2 linked regions of the Homo sapiens genome follow. The main gene of each other region encodes a partner of the protein of the gene in region 2 in a complex. Each region holds a gene or a part of one and is shown on either strand. Other genes may lie near its edges.

Evidence for each region. The genes of interacting proteins can lie anywhere in the genome.
Region 1: VPS72 (region 2) and BRD8 share a complex: the UniProt entries of both Homo sapiens proteins name them as parts of the nuA4-related complex.

The regions. Positions count from the first base shown.
Region 1 is NC_000005.10:138,175,631-138,182,745, forward strand, and holds the start of BRD8 (bromodomain-containing protein 8), read right to left. Parts: upstream 3,001-7,115; 5' UTR 2,985-3,000; coding exon 2,966-2,984; intron 2,038-2,965; coding exon 1,941-2,037; coding exon of another isoform or gene 1,936-1,940; intron 1-1,935. Other genes in the region: kinesin-like protein KIF20A, read left to right, coding at 4,051-4,215, 5,792-5,881, 5,979-6,098, 6,693-6,831, 6,956-7,115. UniProt on the Homo sapiens protein: May act as a coactivator during transcriptional activation by hormone-activated nuclear receptors (NR). Isoform 2 stimulates transcriptional activation by AR/DHTR, ESR1/NR3A1, RXRA/NR2B1 and THRB/ERBA2.
Region 2 is NC_000001.11:151,187,125-151,194,072, forward strand, and holds the start of VPS72 (vacuolar protein sorting-associated protein 72 homolog), read right to left. Parts: upstream 3,074-6,948; 5' UTR 2,998-3,073; coding exon 2,881-2,997; intron 1-2,880. UniProt on the Homo sapiens protein: Deposition-and-exchange histone chaperone specific for H2AZ1, specifically chaperones H2AZ1 and deposits it into nucleosomes.

The DNA.
Region 1 (7,115 bases), on a different chromosome or scaffold from region 2:
AGAGTTGGAGACCAGCCTGGGGAACATAGTGGGACCTCGTCTCTACAAAAACATAAATATTTAAATTAAAAAAAAAAAAAAAGTTCAGCCTGGGCAACATGGCAAAACCCCATCCCTACCAAAAAATACAAAAATTAGCCAGGGGTGATGGCATGTGCCTGTAGTCCCGGCTACTCAGGAGGCTGAGGCCGGAGGATCACTTGAGCCCAGGAGGCAGAGGTTGCAGTGAACCACGATCGCACTACTGCACTCCAGCCTGGGTGACAGTGAGACCCTGTCTGCAAAAAAAAAAAAAAAAAAAAAAAAAAGTCAAACATAATAAAGTTACTACATAACCCAGCAATTTCACTCCTTGAATAAAAAACTCAAGAGAATTAAAAACATTGTCCACAACCTTGTACACGAATGTGCACATCATCAGCATTATTCATAATGGCCAAAAAGTGGAAACAACCCAATTGTCTATCAAGTGATGGATAAATAAAACTTGGTATATTCATACAACAGATTATTATTCAGCTAAAAAAGGAATTAAGTATTGATACATGCTACATAAGAATGAACCTTAAAAAGTGTTATGTCAAGTGATTAAAAAAAACAAAAAAAAGTCCAGAAGAGCACGTATCATTCCATTTGTATGAAATATCCAGAATAGGCAAATCTACAGAGACAAGAGAGTTGGCTGGGTATGGTGGCTCACACTTGTAATCCCAGCACTTTTGGAGGCCAGGACTGGTGCATTACTTCAAGACCAGCCTGGACAAAACCTCATCTCTACTAAAAATACAAAAATTAGCCAGGCCACTCGTGGCGCATGGCTGTAATCCCAGCTACTTGGGAGGCTAAGGCACGATAATCGCTTGAACCTGGGAGGCGGAGGTTGCAGTGAGCCAAGATCTAACTACTACACTCCAGCCTGTGTGACAGTGAGACTCTGTCTCAAATTAATTAATTAATTAATAGAAAGTAGATGAGTGCTTGCTTGGGGGTGGTGAGGAGGGGACAACATGGACTGACAGTTAAGGAGTAAGGGGTTTTTCTTAGAATAAAATGTTCTAAAATTAGATTGTGGTGATGGTTGCACAACTGTGAATATACTAAAAACCATTATATTGTACATTTTAAGTAGGTTAATTTTATAGTATGTGAATTATATCTCAATAAAGCTGTTTAAAAAAAGAAATACAGCTGGCCTGGTGGCTCACACCTGTAATCCCAGTAGGTTGGGCGGATCGCTCGAACGCAGGAGTTCGAGACCAGCCTAGGAAACATGATGAAACCCCCATCTCTACAAAAAAATAAAAAAAATTAGCTGGGCATGGTGGTGTGCACCTGTAGTCCCAGCTACTCAAGAGGCTGAGGTGGAGGATCATTTGAGCCTGAGATATGGAGGTTGCAGTGAGCCAAGATCACACCACTGCCCTCCAGCCTGGGCCACAGAGTGCAATCTTGTCTCAAAAAAAAAAAAAAAAAAATAGGCCTGGCAGTGGCTCACGCCTGTAATCCCAGCACTTTGGGAGGCCGAGGCGGACAGATCATGAGGTCAGGAGATTGAGACCATCGTGGCCAACATGGTGAAACCCCGTCTCTACTAAAAATACAAAATTAGCCAGGCATGGCCAGGCGCAGTGGCTCACACCTGTAATCCCAGCACTCTGGCAGGCCGAGGTGGGGGGATCACCTGAGGTCAGGAGTTCGAGACCAGCCTGGCCAACATGGCGAAACTCTGTCTCTACTAAAAAATACAAAAATTAGCTGGGCGTGTCCGCACCACTGCACTCCAGCCTGGGCAACAGAAGGAGACTCAGTCTCAAAAAAAGAAGAAAAAGAAAAGAAAGTCTACTTACAGCTTAATATGATTAACTATAGAAATCTACCGATGTGAAAGAGTATCTAACAATTTCTAAGACCCAGAAAAGCTGACATCCTAGATACCTTACCAATTTTGATCGCCACTTCTCATGACAGAAGATGCTAAACATAGCTTCTCTCGGATGGACCATGGCTCTGTGGGGCCAGTGCTTAGCAGCTTGTGTTCTGGGAAAGGGAGAAAAAAAAAAAAGCCTTGGAAACAACCACTGAGACTGTAGTGCTAAGCTCCAAAATCCCCAAAAAGAGGACTAAAAGCCTAATACAAAACATCCCAACTTGTTAGGACAAAGTGAGCTACTATAACCAAATCTTGATTTTCACCTCTCCAAGTGAAATATCACCAGTGACCGGGGTACCTATTCGTTGCATGTGAATTATTAACATTTTATTTCTTAAAACGCCATGGCTTGAAGCTCCGCTTTATTAAGAAACAGGGAATGTCAGATTAGGCAGTTCTCCCTAAAAGCCCAGTTTTAAGAATACTGGACTTTATTCCAGTTTGAACTTATTCAGGGCTTATTTCCCAGGAACCCGAGCGGCCAGCCCCTCCTACTACCCCGCCTCCCTCTTAGCATAAACTTGTTTACTTCTCTCAGATCCTCTACTCCAAATGTCGGGGGTAAAAGAGCTTTTCAGTCCAAAAAAAGAAAAATGGCTGAAATCCCCGAGATGCAATTTCCTGAGTGGCAAGAAAAGCTCATGGTTAAAAGACCCCACTTCCACTGCCTCACAAACGTCAGACAAAAAAATGAATGGCTCTTTGAGGTGCCGGTTACTCCGTCTGGCTCATAACATCTTTTCGTCTGCACGCCCAAGTTTCTAGAGTGCTTTTACGGTTAACCCGCAGAGTTCCTAACACACTAGGATTCACTAAGCTGCTTCTCTCACACCTCCGCTCTCTCCCTGAGAAACAAGACCCCAGATTTCTGGGCCCCCAAACGTTGGTCTTCACGATGCTGTAGAGCGCAGGTCTCTGAAAACCCTGGGCTCTCAAGCAACCCACTTCTCCCACTCCCTAAGCGTGTAACAAAAATATGGTGCCTAGCCTCGGATCTACAAAGGCCTTTCACGCAAAACCTGCTCAGATACTCACTGCCCGTTCCCGTCGCCATCTTGGCCCCGAAGTCTCCAACCCTGAGGAGAGACGGTCTGGAAGGGCCGAAACCCTGGAATTCTGGGAAATAGTGTACCGGCGTTGGTTCGCGGTGCCTCCTGGGAAATGTCGTTTTTCCCCTTAAGACAAAGCAAGCACCCTAAACCAGTTACCCTGTGCACTCCTGTTAAGATTGTTGCTAAGGAAGGACAGGAGTTGGCTGCTGAAGCCTCAAGATTTCCTTTAGGCTCTTAGGTAAGAAATGTCTAAGGTTCAAGGAAAAAGGTTAAGTTGGAAGAATCCCAGGCAAAATAAGTGCGAATCCACGACAGTTGGTAACCCGGACCCACATTAGAACTCAGAGGTCAAGCAGAAGCGAACGACTGGAATTCCAGTCAGGCCCGCCCCCTTTCCTTACGCGGATTGGTAGCTGCAGGCTTCCCTATCTGATTGGCCGAACGAACGCAGCGCGTAATTTAAAATATTGTATCTGTAACAAAGCTGCACCTCGTGGGCGGAGTTGTGCTCTGCGGCTGCGAAAGTCCAGCTTCGGCGACTAGGTGTGAGTAAGCCAGTATCCCAGGAGGAGCAAGTGGCACGTCTTCGGGTGAGTGTGCGGCTGTGCTGGAGCCCGGGTTACCAGCTCTTGCCCGCGCGGAATAGGCTTTAAGAAATCGGAGCTGCAGCCATCTGTTTTTCTCTTAATGCTGCATCTCTGTTCTCACGGTGGTCCTTGGGGTGAGGTTAGAGAAGGAGCCGAGGGATCCTGACACCACCTCCACAGCACCGGCGGGCGAGGTGCCCTACTTTAGGCGTAGCCTTCTGCTTTTGGAGCCAGATGTCTGTGGACTTCTGTTCGCGTTCAGAAATGCCGCCTCAAACTTCTCTCAATTGTTCATTAAGTGAACTTCTCTCATTCCCTTCCCCTTTGCCGATAATTGGAGGGGAAAAGAAGTAGGAAGCGGGACACGGTGTCCTGGGGCAAGGGACTTATTACCTAAAATTCGCGGCCCCTTCTGTCCCTAAAGGTTCTTCTCCCTGCCCACTTTTTGGTCTCTTTTTAGACCTAGGCTGCCCCTGCCGTCATGTCGCAAGGGATCCTTTCTCCGCCAGCGGGCTTGCTGTCCGATGACGATGTCGTAGTTTCTCCCATGTTTGAGTCCACAGCTGCAGATTTGGGGTCTGTGGTACGCAAGAACCTGCTATCAGACTGCTCTGTCGTCTCTACCTCCCTAGAGGACAAGCAGCAGGTAAAGGAACTGGGGAGTGGCTGGGGCGGAAAGTGATATCCTCAGGCCAATAATTGTCCATACAGGGTAGTATGAGGTCAAAGACTAGCAATCCTAAAGGTCTGAGATCAATTCAAAATTAAGGGCATTTAGGACAAAATGGCTATGAAAAGAAAAAAAGAAAAAAAAATTAAGGGCATGACAAGTAAAAAAAAAATTGAGTTGTGTGTCCAGAAGAACTATAATTTGCATTGCATTAATGAAATAGCCTCAAATGCATGCTCTTAGTTAATCTTTCAGGGAATAATAGTTATCTCTCTTTGCCTTGAGGCCCAGTTGTGCTAAATAATTTGCACAAGGTCATATAGGCATTATGTAAGTGGAATGTATGTTCAGGTTTTAATAGTATCACCATAGCTTCAATTTGTTGTAGGTTTCCTGCTAGGCCAGGGTTTCTCAGTTACAGCATTATTGACATTTGGGGCTAGACAGTTCTTGTAGGGATCTGTCCTGTACATTTCAAGATGTTTAATAGCATTCTTGGCATTTACCCACTAGATGTCAGTAGTGCCTTCCCATTTGTGACAATCAAAAAATGTCTTCAGGCACTTCAGGCATTGCTAAATGGCCCTTGGAGTGGAAATGACCCTGGTTGAGAAACACTGTACTAGGTCCTATGCTAAACATTAACATACATTGTCAGATTTTGTGCTCTTATAGAGTTTCTCTTAGAGACTTATAAAGTTCCATGAGAGCATGGTCCTTGATGATGTCTCTCACTATGGACTATCAGAGCTTCTCGGTTCCTAGGCCATAGTAGACACTCTAAATATCTGGGTTTTTTTTGTTTTTTGGGTTTTTTTGTTTTCGAGATGGAGTCTCGCTCTGTCCCCCAGGCTGGTGTGCAGTGGCACAATCTCTGCTCACTGCAACCTCCGCCTCCCGGGTTCAAGCAGTTCTCCCTGCCTCAGCCTCCTGAGTAGCTGGAATTACAGGCACCTACCACCAAGCCCAGCTAATTTTTGTATTTTTAGTAGAGATGGGGTTTTGCTGTGTTGGCCAGACTGGTCTGGAACTCCTGACCTCAGGTGATCCACCCTCTTTGGCCTCCCAAAGTGCCGGGATTATAGGCGTGAGCCCCTGCACCCAGCCTCTAAGTATCTGTTGAATGAATGACATAGGTGCTATTATTAACCCCATTCTGCAGATGAGGAAACTGAGGCCAAGAATTTCAAGAACTCATAATTCAAGGTCTCATAGTTACTAAGTCATGGAATTGGGACTCAAATTCAAGTGTTTGCCTCTGCTTTGCTTTAATATCACATACTAATTTTCATACCAGTCAATAAATTCGAACTCAGATCATCGGTGTGGCAAGCCACATTTGCAGGATAATGACGAGACAGGGAAGGGTGACAAAGTAGTAAAAATGTCCATGTGGGTTGGAATGATTGTGGAACCAAAGAGTAGCTGCACAGAGACATTTGAGGTGAAATGGGGTAGTGTTATCATAGTTCCTAGAAACTACTGTTTGCCCATTTGCTCAGAGGTAACTGCTGAAATTAATCTGTGGTTCTGGGCTGGGATTCTGCCACAGGTTCCATCTGAGGACAGTATGGAGAAGGTGAAAGTATACTTGAGGGTTAGGCCCTTGTTACCTTCAGAGTTGGAACGACAGGAAGATCAGGTAAGTGTCTGAGAAGGGAGGATTCAAGGTGAAATGATGCAGTACAAAAGATTCCCAGGAATGCCTTCTGTGACAACTGTATTTTCTCCCTTCTCAGGGTTGTGTCCGTATTGAGAATGTGGAGACCCTTGTTCTACAAGCACCCAAGGACTCTTTTGCCCTGAAGAGCAATGAACGGGGAATTGGCCAAGCCACACACAGGTTCACCTTTTCCCAGGTATGGAGGGTACTGGTTTGTGAACAAAAGACCAACATGTAAGGGCAACTTTATTCCCTCTTTAGAGGGAAAGCTTCTCTTCCTGACTGTGAGTTCCTTGTATATGCACACCTACAATTTTGAGGGCCCTAGTTATGTGTTAGTCAATGTGTCAAGTAACATATGTATATCAGTTCTGAAAAATTCTATTGTTATTATCATTATTTCCTTATTTTCCTCACAAGGATAGTGTGGCTCAATGAATGTAATATTGCTGAAGCCATGTAGCTAGTCACTAGTAGAGTTAGGACCTGAGTCTAGATCCATGTATCTCCAAAGCCCATACTTGTGGGCCATTATATTGCCCCATTGTGTGTGCAGCATCAGGCCTAGGGCATAGCATTCCTTAAGTGTTTGTTGATTTGGTGGAAAGATGGACTAGCAGAGAGTGCTTGAGTCCTCAGTGTTTAGGGAACAGCCAGCAGCATTGCAGGAAGAAGCTGCTTGAGTGGTCTCCAGAGCCAACCACTCAGGAAGGAATATATCTGCTGGCTCTGCACAGGAGGCAAGTGGGAGATGAAGGAGAGGCCTCTAAAAAACTGGGTCTCTCTCTAGATCTTTGGGCCAGAAGTGGGACAGGCATCCTTCTTCAACCTAACTGTGAAGGAGATGGTAAAGGATGTACTCAAAGGGCAGAACTGGCTCATCTATACATATGGAGTCACTAACTCAGGGAAAACCCACACGATTCAAGGTGAGTAGTAAGCCTTCACGGGATTCCTGATTGGCTGGTAATGGTGTTGTTTTTACCTTTTGAGACTCTGAGTTAGGGGGAGAAGGGCACTTGCCTCAGCTGTCCATCTTTCATATGCCTCCAGGTACCATCAAGGATGGAGGGATTCTCCCCCGGTCCCTGGCGCTGATCTTCAATAGCCTCCAAGGCCAACTTCATCCAACACCTGATCTGAAGCCCTTGCTCTCCAATGAGGTAATCTGGCTAGACAGCAAGCAGATCCGACAGGAGGAAATGAAGAAGCT
Region 2 (6,948 bases):
AGATGGCCTGGAGTAGAGAACGTGAAGTACAGCCTAGACCTCAGGTGAACTGGTTAGGGCTAGAATGGCAGCCATATTATAAAGAAAAGGGAAAAAAGCCACTTGAGGGAGAGGGAGTCAACTGGGCTGGCTGACACCTCACATATGTGGTTCTCTCTTCAATCAGTGATGCAGACTAATGGGCTAATCTTGGTACACATGATGCCAAAGCAAGCAAATAACACAGATGGCTGACACTCCAAGCCAGCCAGAGTTCAATTTTGCACTGATGACCATCATTTCCTCCTAACTGATGTTTGTAAAAGACAGCCTGGGAACACATTAATCCCCTCAGCTTTAATCTGGTATTAAGCCATATCACCAGAGGGTAGTAGATCAACCACACATTAGCTTAGTGCCCAATCAACATACTTGCACTAAATTAAGGATTTACTACCATTCCTTCGGCTTTTATTGAGAGTCATTAAGAGACATCACTAGAAAAGAGAATGTTTGTATATCATCTATGAAAACCATTACTTTTTATAATATAAGGATATAATGATAAATGCTCCCTAGGATTTAAGGCTGAAAAAGTTTGTGTCTCTTGAAGAACTTGTATGCTTCTTTCTTACTAAAAAAAGAAATACAAGGTTTGGCTACCAGGAAGCTCACAACTAAATTTAATATCAATTGCTATTACCATTTTAGCAGAGGTTCCTGGTACAATTACTTCTGATCTGTCTCTATTTTTACTGTTCCTACTTTTTGTTTATATTGTAAGCCTCCTTAAATCCTTTTTGGAAGCATGAAGGGTACATATTAAATAACAAGTCGTAAAATGACAGAAATAGGAAAATGGCCTTAGAGGAGGGATGAGAAAGTTCTATTTTAAACTAGTTGGTTAGGGCTGTGTCAGTAATGACTCTGTCAGTGATGTGGGTTTTTTTTTTTTTTGAGACAGAGTCTCACTCTGTCGCCCAGGCTGGAGGGCAGTGGCGCAATCCACTGCAACCTCTGCCTCCTGGGTTCAAGTGATTCTCCTGCCTCAGCCTCCTAAGTAGCTGGAATTACAGGCACACGCCACCACAACCAGCTAATTTTTTGCATTTTTAGTAGTGACAGGGTTTCACCATGTTGGTCAGGCTGGTCTCGAACTCCTGACCTCGTGATCCACCCGCCTCAGCCTCCCAAAGTGCTGGAATTACAGGCGTGAGCCACCACACCCAGCCCCTAAGTCCTGTGGGTTCTATTCCTTAATTTCTCTTGAATCTTTCTGTTTCTCTACTGCCATGCCCCCTTCAAGCCATTCTCATTACAGAGTAAGTAACCTTCCTAAAGTACAAATTTCATCGTGGAATTCTGATGACTCTTCTCAGTCCTCTGGATGAAGAGCAAAATTCCTTAACATAGCTCACAAGGCCCTAAAGGATCTGGCCCATGCCTACTCCCTGCAGGCTTATCAATCTTTAGTCTCCTTCATGCTCTGGAGAATGAAAGTAGACTTGCAGGTCCTAGACCAGGATCTCAATGTCTTTACATACTCAGCCCATCCTGCTCTGTGGACTAACCTTTCTCCTTCTCCTGCTTTTCATCAAGCTAAGGTCTACTTTTCAAACTGTCCTCAGCTTAAACATCATCCCTCCAGGGATGCCTATCCTGATCAACAACTTTGGTTCAGATGTATTACCTTAACACTCTTACACCTTGTTTTAGTCCTTATCACACATTTTTTGTTTGTTTTTGAGACGGAGTCCTGCTCTGTCGCCCAGGCTGGAGTGCAGTGGTACGATCTCGGCTCACTGCAACCTCCTCCTCCCAGGTTCAAGCGATTCTCTGCCTCAGCCTCCTGAGTAGCTGGGACTATAGGCGCACACCACCACGCTTGGCTAATTTTTGTATTTTAATAGAGACAGGGGGTTTTACCATGTTGGCCAGGATGGTCTCGATTTCCTGACCTTGTGATCCACCCGCCTCGGCCTTCCAAAGTGCTGGGATTACAGGCGTGAGCCACTGTGCCCGGCCAAAGCCACTGTGCTCGGCCTATCACACAGTATTTTAACTGTTAACCCAGGCAGTTACCCCACTGGGGCATGGAGTATGTAAGGACAGAGCACTGTTTTTAATATTCTGTTTCCCTAGAGCCTAAAACAACCTATTACCGATGGCATGCTCTGGGTACTCAACACATTTAATAAACGGGTAGATTCAACTAATAAAAATTTAGCAAGTGGCAGCCCAGTCCGGACACCTCACACATAATGTTGAACAAAACAGACCATCTCTAACTTTATACAGTTTACAATGCAATAGAAAAGCATAAGCAAGTAAGCAAACCAAATCTAATTGCAAATTGAAATATGTTCTGTGGAAGAAATAAATGGGGACACTTGTTAGGATAGTCAAGGAAGGGTTATCTTCCTGAGAAAACATTTACACTGAGACCTGAAAGCTGAAAAAGAAGTGGGCTAAGCTCCTCTACTTTTGGAGCGGTTCCTTTCCATGTCTCAGGTGAATAATCCAGCAGTGGGCCAACGAGTATACATCGAGCAACTGTCTACTACTATGTGTGTGCCTCGTGTATGCTGGACGTCAGAAGTACAGTGAAAGATGCAACCACGCAAGTATACGGTAGGTTTCTGCCGTTCTCTGTTCTCTGGAGTGCCTCCGGAGAGCTTCTCCGTCTCAGGCCCCTTTGACCCCATCCAGAGCTCTCCCTTCTAGGACTCCACACTATCCGTTCCCCCGCCTCGCCCCCCGGCTCCGATTCACCCACCCAACTCGAGTATCAGCTCCCAGAGCTCCTCTCTATTCCCCGCCCTCTTCTTCTTTGTCCGGGGTTTCTCCCTTCAGGGCTCCTCTTTGCCTCCTCCCCTCCCTTTTCCCAGGCCCGGATCTTGCCTCTGTGAAACCCCCATAAGTCGTCTGGTAGAACTCATCTTCCTCCTCTGCCTCCAAAAGCCCAGAAAGCCGGTTCCCAGCGGTCTTCCGGGGTGCCCGGCCCCCAGCCAAACTCATACCGCCTACCGAGACTGCGCCGCCACCTGCAGCCCCTCACCAGCTCGGTTTTGGGAGCTCGACGCTCGACATCACTACCTGCGGGTGGCCACCAGCGGCGGAAGTCGGGCGTTTACAGGCAGAAGTAACAGAGTGTCGAGAGACTCCCAGTCCCACCCTCTAAACCCTCTTTACTCTTCAGCCTCTCCTACTCCTGCGCGGATGCTCTAGGCCGCTTGCTCTAGTACCCAGCGATCTCCCTTGCTCAATGAGTCCACTTGGTGGTACGAAGACCCCCATAACCCTAAGTCAACACATTTTATTTTATTTATTTTTATTTTATATATATATATGGTTTTTTTTTTCCGTAGGGACGGAGTCTCGCCTCGCTCTGTCGCCAGACTGGAGTGCAGTGGCACGATCTCGGCTCACTGCAACCTCCGTCCCCCGGGCTGAAGCGATTCTCCTGCCTCAGTCCCCCGAGTAGCTGGGATTACAGGCGCCCGCCACCATGCCCAACTAATTTTTGTATTTTTAGTAGAGACAGCTTTCACCGTGTTGGCCAGGCTGGTCTCGAACTCCTGACCTCAGGTGATCCGCCCGCTTCGGCCTCCCAAAGTGCTGGGATTACAGGCATAAGCCTGCGCCCCCAGCTCACATTTTCTTTTAGAAGAGGTCATTCTCTCCGCTCCAGTCCATTTTCTACACTGCTGCTAGTAGGAAACTTTCTAAAAACCCACGTTTTGCCACTCCTGTCCTCAAACATTTTTAATGGCTCCACATCATCTACAAGATAAAGTCAAAAATCCTTGAGGAAGGAAGCATAGTATTGTGGTTAAAAACACAGCCATAGACATTTATCCAAAGGAAAGGACATAATTCAACCTGAGGAAGCCAATTTAGGAGGAAAAAAAAAAAGGAAATCAGTATATCCAAGAGACGTCTGCACTCCATATTTATGCACCCCCATATTTATTGCAGCACTACTTAGAGTAGCCAAAATAGGAAATCAATCTCTGTGTCCAACAACAGATGAATAAAGGAAATAGGGTGTATATACACAATGGAATACTTTTCAGCCATTAAAAAGAAGAAAATCCTGTCATTTGCAGCAACATGGATGGAACTGGAGGACATGTTAACTGACTTAAGCCACGAACAGAAAGTTAAAACACTGCATGTTCTCACTCATATGTGACGCTTTTAAAAAGTTGATTTCATAGAAGTGAAAGAACAGAGGATACTGGAGGCTGGGAAGAGCAGGGGGAAGGAAGGGACAGGGAAAGATTTGTTAAAAGACACAAAATTGTGGCTCACACCTGTAATCCCAGCACTTTGGGAGGCCGAAGGGGGTGGATCATGAGGTCAGGAGTTCACGACCAGCCTGGCCAAGATGGCGAAACCCCATCTCTACTAAAAATACAAAAATTAGCTGGTCGTGGTGGTGGGCGCCTGTTATCCCAGATACTCGAGAGGCTGAGGCAGAGAATTGCTTGAACTCGGGAGGCGGAGGTTGCAGTGAGCCGAGATCGCGCCATTTGCTCTCCAGCCTGGGAAACAGAGCAAGACTCCGTCTCAGAAAAAAAAAAAAGACAAAATTGGGCCTGGCACAGTGGCTCACACCTGTAATCCCAGCACTTTGGGAGGCTGAAGCGGGCAGATCCCGAGGTCAAGAGATTGTGACCATCCTGGCCAACATGGTGAAACCCCGTATCTACTACAAATACAAAAATTAGCTGGGTGTGGTGGCGCGCACCTGTAGTCCCAGCTACTAGGGAGGCTGAGGCAGGAGAATCGCTTGAACCCGGGAGGCAGAGGTTGCAGTGAGCTGAGATTGTGCCACTGCACTCCAGCCTGGCAACAGAGCAAGACTCCATCTCAAAAGAAAAAAAAAAAAGACACAAAATTACAATTTTTTTTGAGACAGGGTCTCTATTGCCCAGGCTGGAGTGCAGCAGCAGGATCATGGCTCACTGCCTCCTTGACCTCCTGGGCTCAAGCTGTCCTCCCACCTTGGCTTCCAAAAGTGCTAGGATTACAGCTGTGAGCCACCACACTGGCCCCCAATTACATTTGTTTGTTCGTTTGTTTGTTTGTTTGAGATAGGATCTCACTTTGTCACCCAGGCTGGAATACAGTGATGCAATCACTGCTCACTGCAGTCTCGACCTCCTGGGTTCAAGTGATCATCGCACCTCAGCCTCGTGGGTAGCTGGAACTACAGGCTCGTGTCACCACGCCTGGCTAATTTTTTGTACTTTTTGTGGAGATGAGATTTCATCATGTTGCCCACGGTGATCACCTGAGCTCAAGTGATCCCCACTCCTCAGCCTCTCAATGTGCTGGGATTACAGGTGTGAGCCACCTCGCTTGGCCCCAAATTACATTTAGATAGGAGGAATAAATTCTAGTGTTCTTGGCCGGGTGTGGTGGCTCACACCTGTAATCCCAAAACTTTGGGAGGCTGAAGTGGGCAGATCACCTTAGATCAGGAGTTTGAGACTAGCCTGGCCAACATGGCGAAACCCCATCTCTACTAAAAATACAAAAATTAGCCGAGCACGTTGGCGGGTGCCTGTAATCCCACCTACTAGGAGGCAGAGGCAGGAGAATCACTTGAACCCCGGAGGCGGAGGTTGCAGTGAACCAAGATCGCACCATTGCACTCTAGCCTGGGCAACAAGAGTGAGACTCCATCTCAAAAAAAAAAAAAAAAATTCTAGTGTTCTATATCACTGGGGGATAACTATGATTAACAATAATATTTTCAAATAGCTAGAAGAAGGATATTGAATGTTTGTGCTGGAGACAAATAAATTATATATTTGTGAGGCCAGGCACGGTGGCTCACGCCTGTAATCCCAGCACTTTGGGAGGTTAAGGTGGGCAGATTATTTGAGGTCGGTAGTTCAAGACAAGCCTGACTGACATGGTGAAACCTTGTCTTTACTAAAAAGTACGCAAATTGGCCAGGAGTGGTGGCAGGTGCCTGTAGTTCCAGCTACTTAGGAGGCTGAGACATGAGAATCACTTGAAACCGGGAGGTGGAGGTTGTAGTGAGCCAACGTCGTGCCACTGCACTCCAGCTTGGATGACAGAGCGAGACACCATCTCAAAATAAATAAATAAATAAATGATACATTTTTTAGATGACAGATATACTAATTATCCTGATCTGATCACTAAACATTTTATGTATTGAAACATCACTATGTGCCCCATAAATATGTACAATTATGTGCCAATTAAAAATTAAAATAAAATAAAACAACAACAAAAAGAGAACACAGCTTTAGAGCCAGCCAGACCTGAATTTGAGTGTGAACTTTAAGGTCTTTTAGCTGTATGACTTTGGACAAGTTGCTTTACTTCTCTGAATCTCAGTTTTCTCATCTGCAAAGTGGGACTGATAATAATACCTATCTTTTAAGGTCGTAGAAGATTAAGAGATATAATTATTGGCCAGGTGCCATGGCTCACGCCTATAATCCCAGTACTTTGGGAGGCCGAGGCGGGTAGATCACAAGGTCAGTAGTTCGAGACCAGCGTGGCCAGTATGGTGAAACCCCATCTCTACTGAAAATATAAAAATTACCCAGGCATGGTGGCGGGTGCCTGTAGTCCCAGCTAGTCGAGAGGCTGAGGCAGGAGAATAGCTTGAACCCAGGAGACGGAGGTTGCAGTGAGCCAAGATAGCACCACTGCACTCCAGCCCGGGCGACAGAGCCACATTCTGTCTCAAAAAAAAAAAAAAAAAAAAAAAAAGACAGAGAGAGATAATTCTTGTCAACTGCTTAGCACAGTGTTTAGTAAGTGCATAGTAAATGTGTAGTAGGTGGTAACTACTACATGGCATTCAGTATTCAGATCCTTCATAATTTAGCCTCTCCCTGTCCTTCTAGTCACACCTCCTGCGACATCACTACTCCAGCATCTCTCCCCTAACACCCAATTCTCTGTCATGCCTCTATG